3 separate regions of the Homo sapiens genome follow, and all the other regions are linked to region 1. The links come from fine-mapping of genetic effects on gene expression. A gene starts in region 1. Each other region holds a variant in brackets. All regions are shown on one strand. Distances are between the middles of the regions.

The links.
Region 2: its variant is fine-mapped to the expression of RBM33 in lymphoblastoid cells (GENCORD, PIP 0.95).
Region 3: its variant is fine-mapped to the expression of RBM33 in lymphoblastoid cells (GENCORD, PIP 0.95).

Annotation. Positions count from the first base shown.
Region 1 is chr7:155,641,213-155,647,551 of GRCh38, forward strand. RBM33 (RNA binding motif protein 33) reads left to right here and starts at 3,449. Exons shown (of 18, transcript NM_053043.3): 1 at 3,449-3,707. The coding sequence starts at 3,665. It overlaps RBM33-DT (RBM33 divergent transcript), which reads right to left and starts at 3,194. Exons shown (of 3, transcript NR_126344.1): 1 at 3,002-3,194; 2 at 2,256-2,392; 3 at 704-1,758. RefSeq lists an enhancer at 2,388-3,342 and a silencer at 3,267-3,776.
Region 2 is chr7:154,798,116-154,803,115 of GRCh38, forward strand. DPP6 (dipeptidyl peptidase like 6) reads left to right here. Exons shown (of 26, transcript NM_130797.4): 13 at 3,240-3,347. Among named protein-coding and RNA genes, the nearest start is that of PAXIP1-AS2, 130 kb to the right of the region's middle. The variant C/T (reference allele first, on the strand shown) is at 2,477.
Region 3 is chr7:155,829,786-155,836,124 of GRCh38, forward strand. No RefSeq gene overlaps it. Among named protein-coding and RNA genes, the nearest start is that of SHH, 20 kb to the left of the region's middle. RefSeq lists an enhancer at 5,595-6,339. The variant C/T (reference allele first, on the strand shown) is at 2,949.

The sequences.
Region 1 (6,339 bases):
CTCGTGCATTTTGTGATCTTTGATTTTAAGTCCATAGTTGGTTGACCTTAAACTGTGAAGAATATAAGGGGATAATTTGAGAAAGCCCTTCCAGGATCTCTGGCCTAATTTGGGAGCCTGGGGTTTAGATTCCCTCCTCAAAAGCTGTCCAAGAATTTGCTTCCTATTAGCAGTGCAAATGGGGATGACTTCCCCAGTGAAACCCTGAACTTCCTGTACACTACTAACTGCTCAGGCTTTGGATCTGTTTTTTTTTTGTTTGTTTGTTTTGCTTAAGAGATGGGGTTCTGTTTGGTCACCCAGACTGGAGTGCAGTGGTGCTATTACAGCTCATTATAACCTCGAACTCCTGGACTCAGATGATCCTTCCGCCTCAGCCTCCAGAGTAGTTATGCAAAGCAGTTAAAGGTATGCACCACCATGCTTGGCTATTTTTATTTTTATTTTTTGTAGAAATGGGGTTTTGCCATGTTGCCCATGCTGCTCTTGAAATCCTTGGCTCAAGTGATAACCACCTGCTTAGCCTCCCAATGCATTGGGATTACAGGTGTGAGCCACTGTGCCCAGCGTTTTGCTTCCTTCTTGATCCTTTGGAAACATTATTCCTAAAACCTAGCAATACAACAAAAAATGTTTTCCACAGAATCTGTTTTGTTGGAGGAGGGGAACAGAATTTCCAGTTCATCATTACTGAGACGAGAAAGACTTCTATATTCGCTTTATTTACAAAAAAGCAAAGCTTGCTTTTAAGATTTTCAGTAGGATATGTATGAAACTGCAGCGCTCACTAGGTAGTCTTCTTAGGTTTAACCCCTGACACTCATATAATGCCACGCCTGGCAGCAGCTCCACTTTGGAGGACTGAGGAGAAGAAACACACTTCACTGCGGTACAGGCATGGAAGAGCTCTACTCTTTGGCCCAAATGCAATTCAGGAGCAAACCATTATGGGTGGGGGCTTGGCTTGGAAGTCCTTGACCGGCGGGAAACCAGTTCCCTGAGTTTGTCTTTTAGATTCCCACATTCAGTTAAGACAGTAACAGAGGCTAAAGGTATGGCTTCCCACTAGGTGTTTTAAGATTATTCAGTACTTTCAAGCCAGAGGCAGTCTACATGTCAGAGGTCATTTTTACCATGAGCAATGTTTTATTTATTTATTTGGAGATGGAGTTTCACTCTTGTCACCTAGGCTGGAGTGTAGTGGTGTGATCTCGGCTCACTGCAACCTCCACCTCCTGAGTTCAAGTGATTCTTGTGCCTCAGCCTCCCAGGTAGCTGGGATTACATGCATGTGCCACCACACCCAGCTAATTTTTGTATTTTTAGTAGGGATGGGGTTTTGCCATGTGGGCCAGGCTGGTCTTGAACTCCTGACCTCAGGTGATCCACCTGTCTTGGCCTCCCAAAGTGTTGGGATTACAGGCGTGAGCCACCGCGCCTGGCCTACAACCAATGTTGTTTTATACCACAATGAACACTCTGCCTTCATAAGGTTTCTATGACAAGTTAAAGTTAACACAAAGTGAAGTTTGTTCATAGATAAGGACAAGGGGTTGGTTAAATCTTTACTCACAGTAATTTACCAAGAACTTCAAATACTGGGTGTCCACGCTAAAAAATTTTTCCAGTGGGTGTTTGATCAAAAAATTTTATAGACTCTTGTTCTAGAGAAATTCAGTTTCAAGTGGCTTATGAGATTGTTTCATCTGTTAATTTGGTTTTTTGTGGAATTCTTCTGAAGATCACCACTGAATTATCCTGAAAAATATTTTCTGAGTTAGGCATGCCATCCTCCACAGTTCAAAAAATAATGAAAGGTGATAAAGAGTTCAAGCCATTTAAATATGGATGTATTAACGTGCTTTTTAATAGAGACCATTTTTCAATGAGTTGCTTGCAAAACATTTTTTTTGGGGAGTGAGTTCTCACAGTTGAATAATTTTTTTGTTTTTTTTTGAGACAGAATCTCGCTCTGTCACCCAGGCTGGATTGCCGTGGCGCAATCTCGGCTCACTGCAACCTCCGCCTCCTCGATTCAAGCAATTCTCCTGCCTCAGCCTCCTGAGTAGCTGGGATTACAGGCGCGTGCCACCACGCCCAACTAATTTTTGTATTTTTAGTAGAGACGGGGTTTCACCATGTTGGTCAGGCTGGTCTCAAACTCCTGACCTCGTGATCCACCCACCTCAGCCTCCCAAAGTGGTGGGATTACAGGCGTGAGCCACCGCGCCCGGCCAGCATTTTATTATACGTACCGTTTTATCATCTCTTCACCCATCCACCAATGCATCTCCTGTATGGACGTCTTGATTGTTAACTCACGGCACTGGACCTCCAGTTTCATGCCTCTCCACATTGCAGGGTCCTCTACGTTGTTGTATCAGTCACCTTTCTAAAATACAAATCTTACCATGTAAATTGTTTCTAAAATCTTTCAATAGACCCCATAGACTCAGAAAAACGTCCCAAAGTCCGGAATCCTGGCCCCTGCCTACCTTTCCAGTTTCATTGCTGGGTCAGAACGCCTCACCTAAGCCCCACATTGACCGATATGGAATCAATGTTTACAGCCGGTGTGTACTTAATCAACCCCCTTCCCCGACTGCGACCACTCAGATGCGCCTTCCCGGGCCCCACACCCCAAAACCCCTGAGCCCTTTCGTCCACAGCTGTCTGACCACCCAGCACCCTTTCCTTTATGTCAAGTATGAGGATTTCGTTTCTTAACCTTTCTCACTGCTCAAAATGCAAACTCAGACATGAGTGCCGGGCGCTATCCGTCCTGCTCACGTCTTGTTCTCAGGGCCGCAAGGCGCAGGGGCAGTAAGGGCCGAGAGCCCATCAGGGTCCGGCGCTGCCCGCTGCCCAGCCGGGCGCGGAGAAGGGGACGGGGGTCCGGGGTCGCGGGTCCGGAGGGTCTCGGGTTGTAGGAAGTGAGGGCTCGCGGGCGCCGCACGAGTGCGCGTGCACGTTAGCCCGGCGCGCGCGGCACTCATCTCACCTCGCGGAAGCACCTGCCGGAGCTGTGTGCACCCTTTCCTGCCCTCAACACAAGCCGTCGGCGTTCACTACTGTAGCTCATTCAGACCCCACTCTCCAACCTACTGTCCAGGCACAGAAACGACAGTTAAGGTTCCCCCGGACCGTACGCTGGACCTTGCCTCCCCGGCTCCTAACGGGAGACGGGCTGCCGTAAAGCTTCGCTTTGCCGACTGCTGCAAAGCGCCTTACGACTGAACCCGGAATCGACCTATGGCCAGCAGTCGTCCCCGCCCTGCTTCAAACATTTGGGTTTCAGGAGCCGGGCGGAGGTGACTGCCGCGTGTTTGCGTTGCACGCCCACCGCCCGAAACACGGCGGCGGCCTCAGGGCTGCTGCGGCCTCGGCGGGGGCAGGCCCCGGCGCCCGCCCGCCTCCCGGCCTCCATCATCCCAGGGTGCACCGCGGCGGGCGCGGGCGCGCGGCCATGTTGCGGTAGTTTGTTGTTTTCTTCCTGCGGAGGCGAAGGGCCAGCTGTGGACCGCGAAGCGCCCGGCTTCGCCTCTGCCTCCTGCAGCCCCCTCCCTTCTCTGTCCTCCGTCACCCGTACCCGGGCCCGGACCAGGCACGTCGGCCCACCAGCTGGCTTGGTGGGGGAGGCTGAAGGCCGGGCCCCGCGAGTGCCATGGCGGCCGCCCTGGGAGCGAGCGGAGGAGCAGGCGCCGGAGGTACGTGAGGCAGCCGGACTCTGGGGGCCAGGACCGCGCCGCGGTGGGCGGGGGTGTAGGCCGGGGGGCCTCCCCGCTTAGGAGAGGACGAGGCTCTCCCCGGCTCCGACTCTCTTTGTGTTCGGCCTATTCCGTTTTCTCCCTCGCCTTCCCTCGCTATTGTCATTCTCCCTTTCTCGCTCCTCCTCTCCGCTGTGCAGATCGTACTTACCTGTGAACTTCTGTGTGTCCTCTACTTTGCAAGGCTGCCTAAGTGTCAGGCCCATCTCTGGCGTTGGCGGGCATTAAGTGCCGAAGCCGGCCTGGTGTCCTATGGGTAGGAGAGCGCCCCCCCCACCCCCCGAGACAGTGTCACTTAGGGAGAGCGGGGCAGGTCGCTGTAGGGTGGGTGTTTAAGATTGTGGGGCCATCCTGACAGATTTAGATTGATTTGAAGCCCATTACAAAAACATAACGAAAAGATTCACCTGTGTGAAGGAATGTGCGACAGTAGGCCAGTTTGGAAAGTGAGATTTCTTGAGAAAGTCTCAATAAATCCCTGTTTTAAATTAACTTATTTGTTGTCTAATAACCTGTTAGTGTTTTATGTGCGTCTTCCAAAAGTGAAAACGTGACACAAAAGGTTTAGATACTGAGTCAGTTCCTTTGGATAGTTTTTCTTGTTTGCAAGCATAAACAGTATTGATGAAACACCTATCTCTAAAAAATTGTAGGTAAATTACTTTCAGGTAAAATTACATATCACTGGGGGTTTTAAAAACGTGGAGAGATACTTGAAAGTGACTTTTTAAGTGATTATTTTGAAAACTTTGAAAAGATGGTAAAATATGGATAACAAAAGCATTTGGGATTAGTTCTTACCATTGAAACGTTGAAAAGCCAGTCTAGTGTATACTCGAGAAGTATTTTTTAGTAAATGCTAGCAGATGGTTACGTTGTTATCATCCTGTTTAGGAATTTTGGCCCAACTGTCAAAACGTTTGCCTGACAAAATGGAAAAACAAAAAAGACTAAGTGTAGGAATGTCGCTTCTGGCAATTTGGTTTGCTATATGCCACTTTTCTTTCAGTTTAAATACATGATGTTTGCGTGTTACATCTGAGACTAATTAAAATTTTAAAATGTATAGTTCACCTATCTTTCTGGGGGTCAGAATTACTTGTTTTATAGCATTCCCAGTGTAACCTGGGAACTCTTGGGTGAACACTCTTTTCATTAGAAAGACTAAGGTGTTATTTGTATTTTTTCTCTTTTCTTTCAGTAGTGTACAGTGGAGTTTTCTAGAGGCTGAATAACATGTGAAGACGTTATGCTGATGGCTAATGGAATATATGCTTGTGTATTCTTTTACGTTTCTCATTTTAAATTTCTAAAATAGTAATATCACTGAATGTAATCCAGATAAACAGGCATTTTTGGGTCTTCAATAATTTTGAGGTCAGAAGTTTTGAGAATTGCTATTTTAGAAGAATAAGTAGGCTTTATTCATGATGCTTTGGAGTTTTTCCTTCCATTTTGTCACAAGTGCCAAAGTTTCCTTTGCTCTTCATACCAAACTCCTTGCCAAGATTTGTGAGTTCTGTATGACTTGGTCCCTGCCTACCCCACCAGCATGTTGTGTGATTGCTTCCTTTATCCTGGAAGTTCATCGCATGGACTGCTCCTGTACCCGCTCTTGCCAGGGCTGACTCCTGATCCAGTGGATCTCACGCTTTTAAGGGAGGCTTTCCTTGAGAATTCATTGTATCTGAGGAATGTATGTCCGTTGCTCTTGTGCCTCTCTTGTCTTCATTCTCTAGCACCTTTGTTTGTTTTCTTCAGAACGTTTATCTTAATTTGTAATTTTCTTCAGTTTTTACTTGTTTTTTAAATCTGCCTCCCACAGTAGCCTGTAAACCTCATGAGGACAAAAATGCTACCTGTTTTACCATGCGTTCCACGTGTTCCTGGCACATAGCATGTGTTCAACAAACATTTGGTGAATGAATTAAAGGATGAAATGTTTTCTTTACGAATAGGAAATAATATAATTGTATGCTAAGTTATGTTAGTCATTTCCACGTGATTTACCTGTGTAACTGATTAAATCATGTTAGCTTGGAGAAATATTTACATTGGTAATACCTTATTGAGCTATCGATAGCTTATTTGGCAGCTCAGTTTAGCATATTGTCTAGCACAGTGACTTTCAAACTTCTTAAAATGGCAGCCACAGAAATGTGATTGACATTGTGATTTAGTACATACATAAAAGTTAAAAAAAATTTCATGAACAATACTGGTCCATACTATGCCATGCACTCTAATGTTTTCTATTTCATTACAGTAAAATGCTGGTTGTGACCTGGATTAATTTCACAACCTACAAAATGTTCGAGATTGTCAGTTTGAAAATCACTGGTCTCTTGTATAGTAAGTGGTTAGTATTTATTGAATAAAATAGGTCTTGGCTATCCACAATCTGGATAGCCAAAATGGGTACCACAAAGTGTCTATAGGAGTGTTTGCTTATTTTTTACTTTTTTTTTTGAGACAGGGTCTTGCTGTGTTGCCCAGACTGGAGTGCAGTCGTATAATCATGGCTAATTGCAGCCTTGGACTCCTGGGCTCAGTTGATTCTCCCACTTCAGCC
Region 2 (5,000 bases), 840 kb before region 1:
CTGTCCCCCTCAAGAGGCATTCTCACAGGGGGAGCTGGCTTCCCAGCTGGCCACCTGCAGTTCTGCCCTCTGGATGGACGGCAGAGTGCATGGTCCCTGGAGGCCCATGGGGGGCCGTGGTTCTGTCCTCCAGCGCTCACTTCATTAGCTCTACAGAGTAGCTACAGAGCCGAGGTCGTCAGCAGGACTTTCCTGTATTAGCGATTGTGTGTCTCATCGCCCATATGAGAACAGCTACTAAAGTGTGGGGTAAGACAGCCTGAATGGGATTCCAGAAACCAGATCCTTCCAAGCAGAATCCAGTCAACACTTAAAAGGTGGCATGAATTAAAATAATTCTTACTGTTTTCAAATGTAAAGTTTAAAGCATTTACTAAGCACACAGCTAAATTTTTAAAATAGCTGCTTAAACGTATGCAATGCTGCCATGAGTTGGAAACATAAGGTTCTGTGACAGGTGTGTTTTCCTGGGATGGAGCGTCCCTGGGTCAGGTCAGCCCATCAGCTGCAGTTGTGATTGTGACACTGGGTTGGGGCATCCCGCCCATGGCAGCAGTTGGGAGGCCAGGATGTCTCTGAAGACCCTACAGGTTGTGAGTCTGCACCTGTGAAGATTGCAGCTCCATGGTCTGCAGGAAGATTTAATTTCAAACAGTTTCTTATGACATTGTTTTTTTCGTAAAGGAATTCATGGACCCTATTTTTCAAAAACAATCTGTAGTGTTTCTGCATCCCTCGAGTTACTGTGATATCCTGGAGAACAACTTAGTAACTTTTTAAGACTGAACCTGCCACCTGCTGCCAGCGAAGCCATTGGCTGCTGCTTCAGACAGAGCCTAAGGGGGTTTTCCTGGGAGGGCTGCAGGCATGAGTGAGGGAGACACATGGAGGCCACATGCCCTCTACCCATCCATCTCCAATGGGTCACAGAAGCTTGCCCCAGCTGGCCCAGGAGAAACTGGCATCTGGAAGGTCCTGCAGACCTCAGGGAGACCCGGCCTGCTTAGGTCCACCGATCTTCCAAGGACCCGGTGCAAGAACAGAGGTGAGTTGTAGCGAGCCTGCTAATTTTGTGTCATCTGAGCTGTTCATCTGAGCCGTTCATCCTCCTCTCTTCTCTTCCCAACTCCTTCCTGGAATCCTCAGTACGGTCACCCGCAGAGATTCCCCATGAGCCAAACAGAAGAGGAAAATGCATGTGTGGAGACCCACCAAGTTCCCTCTCCTCTAGGAATATTCCAGAGAAGCAGGCAATCCCCCCTGCCACATACACACCCTGTCACTGCTGCGCTGACCCTGCAGAGTCAGTCCTGATGCAGACCCATGAGGATCCTCTGCCAGAACCATCTGCATTTGCCATAGAACCCCAGAGCCTATTGTTTTGGTTGAAGGATCGGTTCCATGGATCCATTTCTGACTGTCTTTATTCTTTTATCGGAATTTTGGTTTTGTGATTTCAAAATTTGGGCTGGAAGGGGGGTTGGACAAAATTATTATATCTGAACCATGGGAAAAAAACACTGGCAAAAATGCTACAAATAACTCACAAAGAAGCTCTCATGAGTCAAAAGGGCTCCTTCTTCACAGATCTGCTGAGTGGAGTTGAGGAAACCAGGCATTGTGTGTGATAAATTCTGTTATCCAGAGAGACTAGAAACGCTTCCCCCAAAATCAAATGAGAGACAGAACCAGGATAAAATCCAGGTCCCCTGGTCAACAATCATTGCACTTTGTCACTAAAAATACATTTACCACATGAGAAACCGGGTCTCAGAGAGACTCAGAGGCTTCACCTGTGTTCCGAGGAATGTTTCCCTGACAAGGTAGAGATGACATCACAACGGTGGAGGCCTTCTTATTATAAAAACAATGCTTCTGGCCAGAATTAATTATTTATTACATTTATTTAGAGTATCTTTGTCTGCCAAACGTGCAAACATTTCCCCCAGAAAACTGAAGGAATATAGCGCTACCCGCCGCACAGTTGGCAAATAGAAGTGCATTTTAAAAGCCAAATTAACCGCTGGTTTTTCCATTTCCTCTGCTTTTAAATACCATGCTTCCAACTCTAAATAGGAAAATAAATGTTTGCAGATTAAAGGTTCCATTTTATTGCAAATATTCATGAAGATTAAATGTCATTTTAATCACATGTTAGTTTATTTCTCTGGGCATATCATATCTGCATGGGTTCACTCACTGTAGGGAAATGAGTTTTGCTTGTGCCAGCTGGGGTTTATTTACCATTAGTTCTCATCCCCGCATTCGTGTGAAGCTCCTTGAGTCAGAAAATACATCTCGCAACCAACTAATTGGTGTTCACGGATGGAAACTTTCAAACTTGGGCTTCAGAGAGGCCAAGGTACCGCGGTAGCAAAATCCTTTTTCGCCCATCAAAGCAACAGCCACCCTGTGGGCTGGTGGAAGGCTGAGGCCGCTGGCTGTTCACTGTCCGGGGACCAGGCAGAGATGGTGG[C/T]GACACCTGCCCTAAATCCAGCCTGGAACCCTTCCCCCAGGGAAAACTGGGCATGCTGATTCTGTTTCCAGGGAAAAGAGACAGTAGATCCAAGCAAGTGTTGTCATCCAGTGTGGCCCGAGGTGGAGCGTGTCCCTGGGACTGCTGTCCCCTCCCACCTGTGTTTTAGAACCCGTGGCATTTGTCCTTGTGTTTATTTTCTTTTTTTCTTGCCTTCTTGATGGGCTATTCAGTGTGAGATCAATTGTATTCAATAAGAAGAAAAGACAGGATTGAAAGAATAGATTTTGCTTTTAGGCAAAATCTGGTTTGGGATTGTTGAGAATTATGTTTTTTTCTGATATATAATAAATGCCACTGGAGAAATCTCACAATACACTCTGGTTTCAATGGGCAATAATTCAAGGAGGAAGCACCTCCTTTTGAGTTTTGAGAGCAGAGTTCCTGTTCTCACTGGTGAGCTTGGCGTGCACATGGGGCTGGGCTTTGTCTCGGTGCTGTGTAGACTGAGGGATGCCTTTTTATTTGCCACTGCCGGGGCTGTAGCCTCTTAATTCCTCCATCTTCTTCTTTTAGAAAACGTAACAGTTGACTCATGATTCCCGAGGAAAGTGACGGCCTCATCAAGCACTTATTATTTCAACTGTTCCTCTCCTTAGAAATCACATAGAAAATGTATCTCGGGGTGTATTTTATCCTGGTTCAACCTCTTCAGAATAAATGATGTTTTAGTTGTGGTTTCATCCGTGGCCTTTGTCCACAGAATGAAGAACCTGTGTTCTCCAAGGATGGCCGAAAGTTTTTCTTCATCAGAGCCATCCCCCAGGGAGGACGAGGGAAATTCTATCACATCACGGTGTCCTCGTCCCAGGTAAGTCCTGCTAGTTTCCGGAGCTGAACTAGAAACTGGCCTGCTAGAGGCCGTGGGGTGACAGCCTCTAGGGCTGGGCACACTTGCGTTTTCGAGGACCCCAAGGAATCTGAAGGTGGTTCCCGAAGGCAGGGCAGGGCATGGCGCTGGTGAGTGCAGAGGTTCCCATCAGGCCTGGTGGAACCTTGCTCTATCTGGTCACGTGCGAGAATGTGAATGACGCTTCTGCCAAGGTCAGCAGAGACCCTGGGGTCCCCTGTTCAGTGTAAGGCCAAGGATGTTGGAGGACTGTCTGTGCCGGGGGCCCTTTCCTTCTCCCTCTGCTGAGGGTCTCCTTAACATACTCCCCGCTGAGGCATGGCTCCATGCACTCAACATCCCTCAGGGGTCCAGCCTCCCATGCTGCCCTACCTCCACCCGGAGTTGGATGCAGGTATTATTTTATTATGTGACCGCTACCAGCCATCACTCACTGGTTCTGGGGTCTGGCGAGTTCGGAATGGAGCATCCCTGAGTAGGGAATCTCAGAGATTAATATACGTGAATCTAGGATCAAAAGTAGACATCTCGGGGTCACCATCTCCTGAAGAGGTCACCTCAGGGAGCCTCACGCCTGCAGGACGGGGCTGCCATGGTGTTGACTTTGGGGGACTCTGCCCTGAGGAAGAAGGGAAGCATGATCTTGGATCTCCTCAGTTTTGGAGGCAGTCTAAAGTTATTTGGGATCAGGGTAAATGAATGAAATTTGATTAGAGAAAATGTTAATCACAAATATTCTATGGCTATGACATAGAAGGCTCATATTTATGATGAGGCCTCAAAGGCAATTTCAAAAGAAAATCCAAGAACATCCGCACTAAGAGCAGCTCTGATGGAATCAGGGTGGGGGCTGCGGGACCCCTGGGATGGAATCGGGGTGGGGGCTGCGGGACTCCTGGGATGGAAATGGCGTCTCTTGGAGGTTCAGGTGCAATTTTTTCTCAGTGCACTTCATGACACGATTGATAGAATGTCTGCAAGCTGTTGCCTTTGCTTTTTCCTGCGGTCTTCATTCTACCATCCAAATTCTTTTGTTTATTATTTTACATCACTTATATCAAGATTTTAAAATGCTGGCCAGGTGCGGTGGCTCACGCCTGTAATCCCAGCACTTTGGGAGGCCAAGGCAGGTGGATTACCTGAGATCAGGAGTTCAAGACCAGTGGCCAACATGGCGAAACAAAAATTAGCTGGGCATGGTGGCACCTGCCTGTAGTCCCAGCTACTTGGGAGACTGAAGTAGGAGAATTGCTTGAACCCGGGAGGCGGAGGCTGCAGTAAGCTGAGATCGTGCCACTGCACTCCAGCCTGGGTGACAGAGTGAGACACTGTCTCAAAAAAAAAAAAAAAAAAGATTTATAAATGCTTCAGTGTTTTCATTTGGCTCCCAGTCTTGTATTTATCCAAGTTGCCATCATTTGCCCGGAGCCCTATCAAACATTCCAGCAGGAAGCAGGTCTCCTGCACTGCCCATGAGGCACCACCTCCTGCAGGTTCCCAGGAACCCCTCGGGGGGCCCCCAGGGCCTTCCCTTTCAAAACCTGCTTCAAACTCCCCAGCCTCTCCTACACGCTGTCTGCGCCCCCAGGCCCTGCTGCCCCCCAACCCCCATGT
Region 3 (6,339 bases), 190 kb after region 1:
TGATTGTCATGGCCATTTCGCAGTGTGTACTTATACAAAAGACCATGTTGCACGCACTAAATACCTATGATTTTTATATTTCAGTCTTTCCTCCATAAAGCTGGAACACAGAGTGCCCACATGAAGCCTTCAGCACAGAGCCTTGCCTTGCACCCCAAGTCACTCCCGCACCTGGAGCACATGCCAGGCCAGGTGCCAGCAGGTGCACACCCCAGGGCTGCCCAAAGGCCGTCCCCTCCTTCCAGTGAGAAGGGGCCCACTCTCTCTTTCTCTCTGGTGGGCCTCCCCTTCTGACGCCAGTAACTGACTCGTCTCCTGGGCTAGTGCTGGAGGTGGCCTCCTTCCCAGAAGAGCTGAGAGATGCAAGGGAAGCCGGGTCCACGGGGTCCTACCCCGTCCAATGATGACCTAAGCTGTGCAGTCAGGCAGACAGATGCCTTAATGGGGCCCCAGCGCAGTCAGCAGCCGCACCTGGCACGTCCTCTGGGGATGTGGCACTTGGAAAGGAGTGACTCGTAGGAGGATGGGTAAAACACCACCCACTGTGCGTGCCAGGGGAGGAGTCCAAGGCCCTGGATCAGTGAGGCTCTCACCCAGTCCAGCCCTGCACGTCCTCCTTGGGAGGGGTGGGCAAGGGGGACGTGACCTCTGGCATCAATGTATCCACGTGCCTTACAGCAACAGCTCCATCACCACACCCTGCTGGCTGCCCTGTGCTGCCATTTCTGGGCCTCACTGATGCTAAGTTGGAGGATAGTCAGGGAGAGGCCACGTTTGCCAAGTGAAATTGGGAATTACATGAGCGGGACCAAAATCTGGAATTCTCTCTCTCTCTCTCTCTCTGTCTTTTTTTTTTTTTTTTTTTGAGATAGATAGGGTCTTAGTCTGTCATCCAGACTGGAGGGCAGGGTATGATCTTGACTCATGGCACCCCTGACCACCTGGGCTCCAGCCATCCTCCCACCTCAGCCTCCCAGGTAGCTGGAACTACAGGCACGTGCCTGGTTAATTAGGTGGCAGGCTAATTTTTGTGTTTTTTTAGAGGTGAGGTTTTGCCATGTTGCCCAGGCTGTAAATCTGGAATTCTCAGTCAAGGTGGAGGACCTGAGAGAGCTGGGGACATTTGGGAGGGAGGAGTGGGCTGAGCGTGCAGGGGGCAGACAGGGATGGGGTAAGAGGCGGACCCCGGCAGTGAAGTCAGGTTCCGAGGCGAAGGAGCCATCCCGAAATTACCCAGATGAGAAATCTTGTTTCCGAAGCGCCTCTGCGTTCCGGGCACCAAGGGAGAGTGAGTTCTGACCGGGTTGTCGGGGGGTCAGGGACTCTGCCCTCAGCCACTTTGGCTGCTGGTTCTGCCGAGCCACTGCCCGAACAGCACCCCGGATGCACCCGAGGAGGTGAGGCTCTGCGGACCGGGTGCCCTGTGAGTGACAGGGGAGAGGCCCCTGAGGTTTGCACAGTGCCTGTCACTTCTCAAAGCACCTCCTTCGTTCTGGCAATTTAGTGAGGGAGGCTGGGCAGCCGGGGCTGTCCATTTTATAGAGGAGGACACCAAGCCTCAGGGAGGGAGAGGGAAGCCGGTGGAGCCGGGCAGAAGCCTGTGGAGCTGGGTAGAGGCCGGCGGGTTTCCCAGCAGCGGTCTTCTGCATCTTCTGGCTGAGTCCTCCGCTGTCAGGAGACCCCGGCCTGGGCCAGGAGGTCCGATTCTGGGATGCGAACGTGGTGGGGCTGTTGCCATAGATACCGATGTGGTCACCAGCCTGAAACCCTTGAGCCACGGAGAGATCAGACGGTGGTCCCCACTCCTCAGCCTGGAGCCTGGCAGAGACGCTCAAGGAAGAGGGTGGGCTGACCGCGCACGCCTCTCCTTTCTTCATATCCTGCGCGGCTCGGGCGCTGTGCAGGAGGCCTGTGCTCAGCGAGGAGAGAGACAGAGAGTGCAGTGGGAGGAGCGCGGGGTCGGGGGGCTCTGCTTCCCACGGTGCGCCTGGGAGCCTCTTTGCCTCTTGGGGCCTCAGTTTTTCCAAATGTAAAACCAGGGCAGCCCTTCAAGCCCCTGGCCAGTGACACACAGAGACGAGTAGATAAGGACACCAGGGCAGACTGTTCCGAAAGCGGTGAGCCGGCCATTTCAGCGCTGGTTCTGCATGGACTTTCCTCCTATGGAGGCTGGAATCAGCTGGTGCAATCCTTACAATTCTGGTGGGAAAATTCCATCAGGCCTTCTGCAAACACACAAACTGTTTACCCTCACACACCCCATCTCTGCAGGGGCCTCGTGTACTCAGAACGCACCAGTAACCCCCACTTGGACGCTGCTTGCTCTGGAAACATTTCTAACTTGGTTATCTGGCTGCAAACCTCCAGCAGTTTCAGAAATAAAATGACAGAAAGGGGAGGGATTCTTAGAGGTTGACTTCATGAAGGGAAGAGATCGAAAAATGATACAAGCTGGGCGAAGGGACTCCTGGCCAGCAGGCTGGGGACACCCGACCATTCAGGGTGCTCAGCTCGCTCCTGCCTTCAGTCCCGCCAGACTTTGCGATTGTGTAAAGCAAGGAACAGGCACGTGAGGAAGGCAGCTTTGTCCAAAGCGGGCTTCAGTGATGCAGAGAAATGTTGTAATCCTTCTTGAGAAACATTTGCATGCAAAATGGTTGACATACAAGACATTTTAACATTTAGAGGAAGGTTAGTTCCAAGTTTCCAGTATCCTCCTAAGACCGGCGGGAGCTCACATCTCAGAGCTCTTCAGGAACACGAGGTGAGGACCAGCCCCTTTCCCAACCCCGAGGTGGCAGAAGGAGTGAGCTGGAGCCAGAAGTTCCCTGCCCCTTGCCTCCCCGCAGGAGCTGGGCCTTAGACAGCTCCCCAGGAGCTGGGCTGGGAGGAGAGCTGGGGGCAGGGAGGGTGCCTGTGAGGCAAAGCTTCTAGATGTCAAGGAGAAA[C/T]GGGACTGGGTCAAGGCTCAGCCAGTCTTGAGTGACCCTGGAGAGCTGGGATCTGCTGGTCTGTGGGCCCAGAGATTTTCTCTGCGTCTACTCACCTTCCAGCCCCCACCCTGGCCCTGGCCCTGAGACCTCCCCACATGGATCTCCTGCCTCGGTGCTCCCTGCAGTTGGATGAGCAGCCCCGGTGGTCCTGACAAGGAGTGAGAGCAGTCGCTACCCCGGTGTAGCCCATGCTGCTGTCTTCAGCCCAGCAGGTCAGTCCTGCTCTGTGACTTTGCTGAGATGGGCTTGGCACTTCCTTGGGTCAAATGCTGCTCTGACCCTGCATTTGCTTCAGTTTCCGGGGGAAGAGAATCTTCCAGAGTGACAGAGAAGCGCCAAAGGATGTTGGAGCTGGAAGGAACCGAGGCCCCAGCCAATCTCATCAGGTTTTCAACTTCAGCTGCACGTTAGAATCATCTGGAAAGTTCTAGAAAAATGCCTCTGCCTAGCCTCACTGCCAGAAGCCATGACTTAATTTGTTTGGGATGGAGCCCAGGAATTATCTTCCAGGTGATTCTGATGTGTAGCCAGGGTTGAGTTTCACGGATCCCAAAGCTGTGTGGCTCAGAGTGGGGAAGTGAGTTGGAGGGGGGGCTGCGGCGCAGGCCTCTGATGGCCTCACACCCTCTGCCCGCCATGGCTTGCTTCTCAGAGACTGTGGGTTTAGGCTATGGAATAATTTTCAAAAATACCAATTCTGGATCTTGCAGGCATTTAGAGTCCCCCAAACAATTTCTTTGGTGAATCCTGAAAACAGCCTTTTTTACAAACTTCTGTGCATCTCAGCAGAAACTAACAGCAAAATGGAACTTGGCTTAAGCTCTGGAGACATTTGAAATCTTGGCTAGTTGCACAATGATGTCTCGTGGCATTTCGGCGTGCTGGGGATCCTTTGTGGGCACGGCTGCGGTGAGGCTGCTCTTTGGGGGCTCTTTGACTGGTTGTCCAGCCGCACCTGCTGGGAACCTGAGGCCGAGTCTGCACCACCCCCATCGGAATTCCCAGGCAGTGCCCTGGGAACCTGCCTGCCTCTGCGCTGAGTGGTGACAGCTGGTGGGTTGTCCCTCCCATCACGGAAAGCTGCTCCCAAGAAAGCCTGAGGCTTTGGACACGCAGTGGCGTTTCTGATGGAGGGTGCCAAAGCCTGGGGACACCCGCTTCCTCCTGAAAAACCAAACGGTCTTTGGTTCTGCTGCCTGGGAAGTCCAGCCATGCCTCCACCCTGTCCTCTTTGGGGCCGAGTGGGGAGCATGCAGCTGGGGGCCAGCTGACACATCTGGGGTGACAGAGGTCTCTGGCAGCTGGCATTCTAAAGGCCAGAGGTTTGCAAGTGCACTGTGAGTTTCCTGCTCTGTTCTTTAAGGAGAGCTTGGTTCTCAAAAAAGTGCCATTTGCTAGATGAGGCTCAGTGTGGCTCAGTGGGGATGGAGTGCTCTGGAAGGACCTGGGGGGATGGGAGGACGGGGGCTGCCCAGTGGGCCAAGCCCCATTCATAGACTGCTAGGCCACTCCTTAAGCCCATAGCGGGAATTGGTTGGTGGTTTTCTGGGTCCATGAGCTGTCACTTAAAAAAAAAAAAGATTTTTCAAGATGTAATACGCTCACCATACATTGACCCGTTTGAATTGTATAATCCAGTGGTTTTCAGCATATTCACAGATACGTGCAGCCATCACCACAGTTTCGGAGCTATTCATGACCTCCAAAAGTAACCTTGGGCTCTAACCCTCCCTTCCCCCGGCCTCTCCCAACAGATCCACTCTCTGGCTCTGCAGGTTTCCCTCGTCTGGACATTTGGCATGAATGAAATGGCACAATGCAAGGTCCCTGTGGCAGCTTCTTTAGAACAGTCACACAGCACGATGCTTCCAGGCTCGCCTGTGTTGTGGTGTATGATGGGGCTCCTTGTCACTTTGTGGCTGAGCGACACCACAGGGCACGGAGGAGCGTTTTGTGTGTCCGTTTGTCCACAATGGATGTTTGTGTTTTCTCCACTTTTGGCCATTGTGAGCCGTGCTACTGTGGCTGTGATGTGTGCAGCTCTCCTGGGTGTGTGTCTAGGTGTGCATTCCTCGACTGGAATCTGCATTCGCTTCGCAGGAGCCAGGTCAACAGCGGAGGCAGAGTGAGGGGTGAGGCCTCCCTCAAGGGTTGGGTGGTGAGAGGGGAAGGCCCGGGGCTGGTGGCCGTTCTCAGAGTTTCCCTCCGCAGAGCCAGCCCTTTATCATGTTGCTCTGTGAAGACAGTGACTGTCTCTGAGCCCCTGCCCTTAGTCAGGGTCTCTGAGTTCATTCCTATAGTTCTTTTTTGGTGGGAAGGAGCAGTCAGGGTCTTGCTCTGTTGCCCAGGCTGGAGTAAGTGGTGCAGTCTTGGCTCACCGCAGCCTTAACCTCCTGGGCTCAAGCGATCCTCCTACCTTAGCCTCCCAAAGTACTGGGACCACAGGTGCACACGCCAGGCCTGGTTAATTTTTTTTTTTTAATTTTATGTTTCGCAGAGATGGGGTCTCACTATGTTACCTAGGCTGGTCTTGCACTCCTGGGCTCAAGCGATCCTCCTGCCTTGGCCTCCCAAAGAAATGGGATTATGGGCATGAGCCACTGTACCTGGCTCCTTCCTATAATTCTTCCAATTTCTGTATATAATAAAAATTATTTACAAAACGATATGTTTAGAGATTATACGTAGGAAATGACTCCTATATATATAATTTCCTGGAATTCTCATAACTCCTTTAGTTTATCTTCTGAAATGATGGACAAAAACACACTCTGAGGACAGACTTCTGAGCCACAGGGAAGGCCCTGGTGCCTGCAGATGGTGACGACACAGGCGAGGCCCAAGGGGGATGGCATGGGGCCCGAGCTGGGCGGCTGCCCTCTCTCCCTGAGCTCAGGGTCCCCTGGGCCCAGTCACTTCCAGTCCAGGCTCCTGGTCTATGCTCCTAGGAAACTTGCCAGTGCTCCTTGTGTCTCTAGGCCTCAGTTTCCCTAGCTTTGAAACAGCACACCCGTTGCCATTTGACGAGTGTGTATCTTCACATCTCTCATGTCCCCACTGCAAGAACCTGCCCACACCTCCTCAGCATCCCTAGTTCCAGCCACGCCCAGGTCACCCTCCCCAGGCACCTGTGACACCACCTGTGGGTAGGAGGCCACGGGCTCAGGTTCTGGGAGCAGCCCTTGGTCCAGGGCAGACGGATGCTGGAGGATAAGCCCCAGTCCCTGGTGGGCTGACCCAGCTGTGTCCTGTGCTGATCACCAGAGCTCCTGGCGGGACAGAGCCCCACTGTCTGCGCCAGGGACCTGCCTGTCAGTCACCCTGCATCAACTCCTGGGGTCACCGCCCC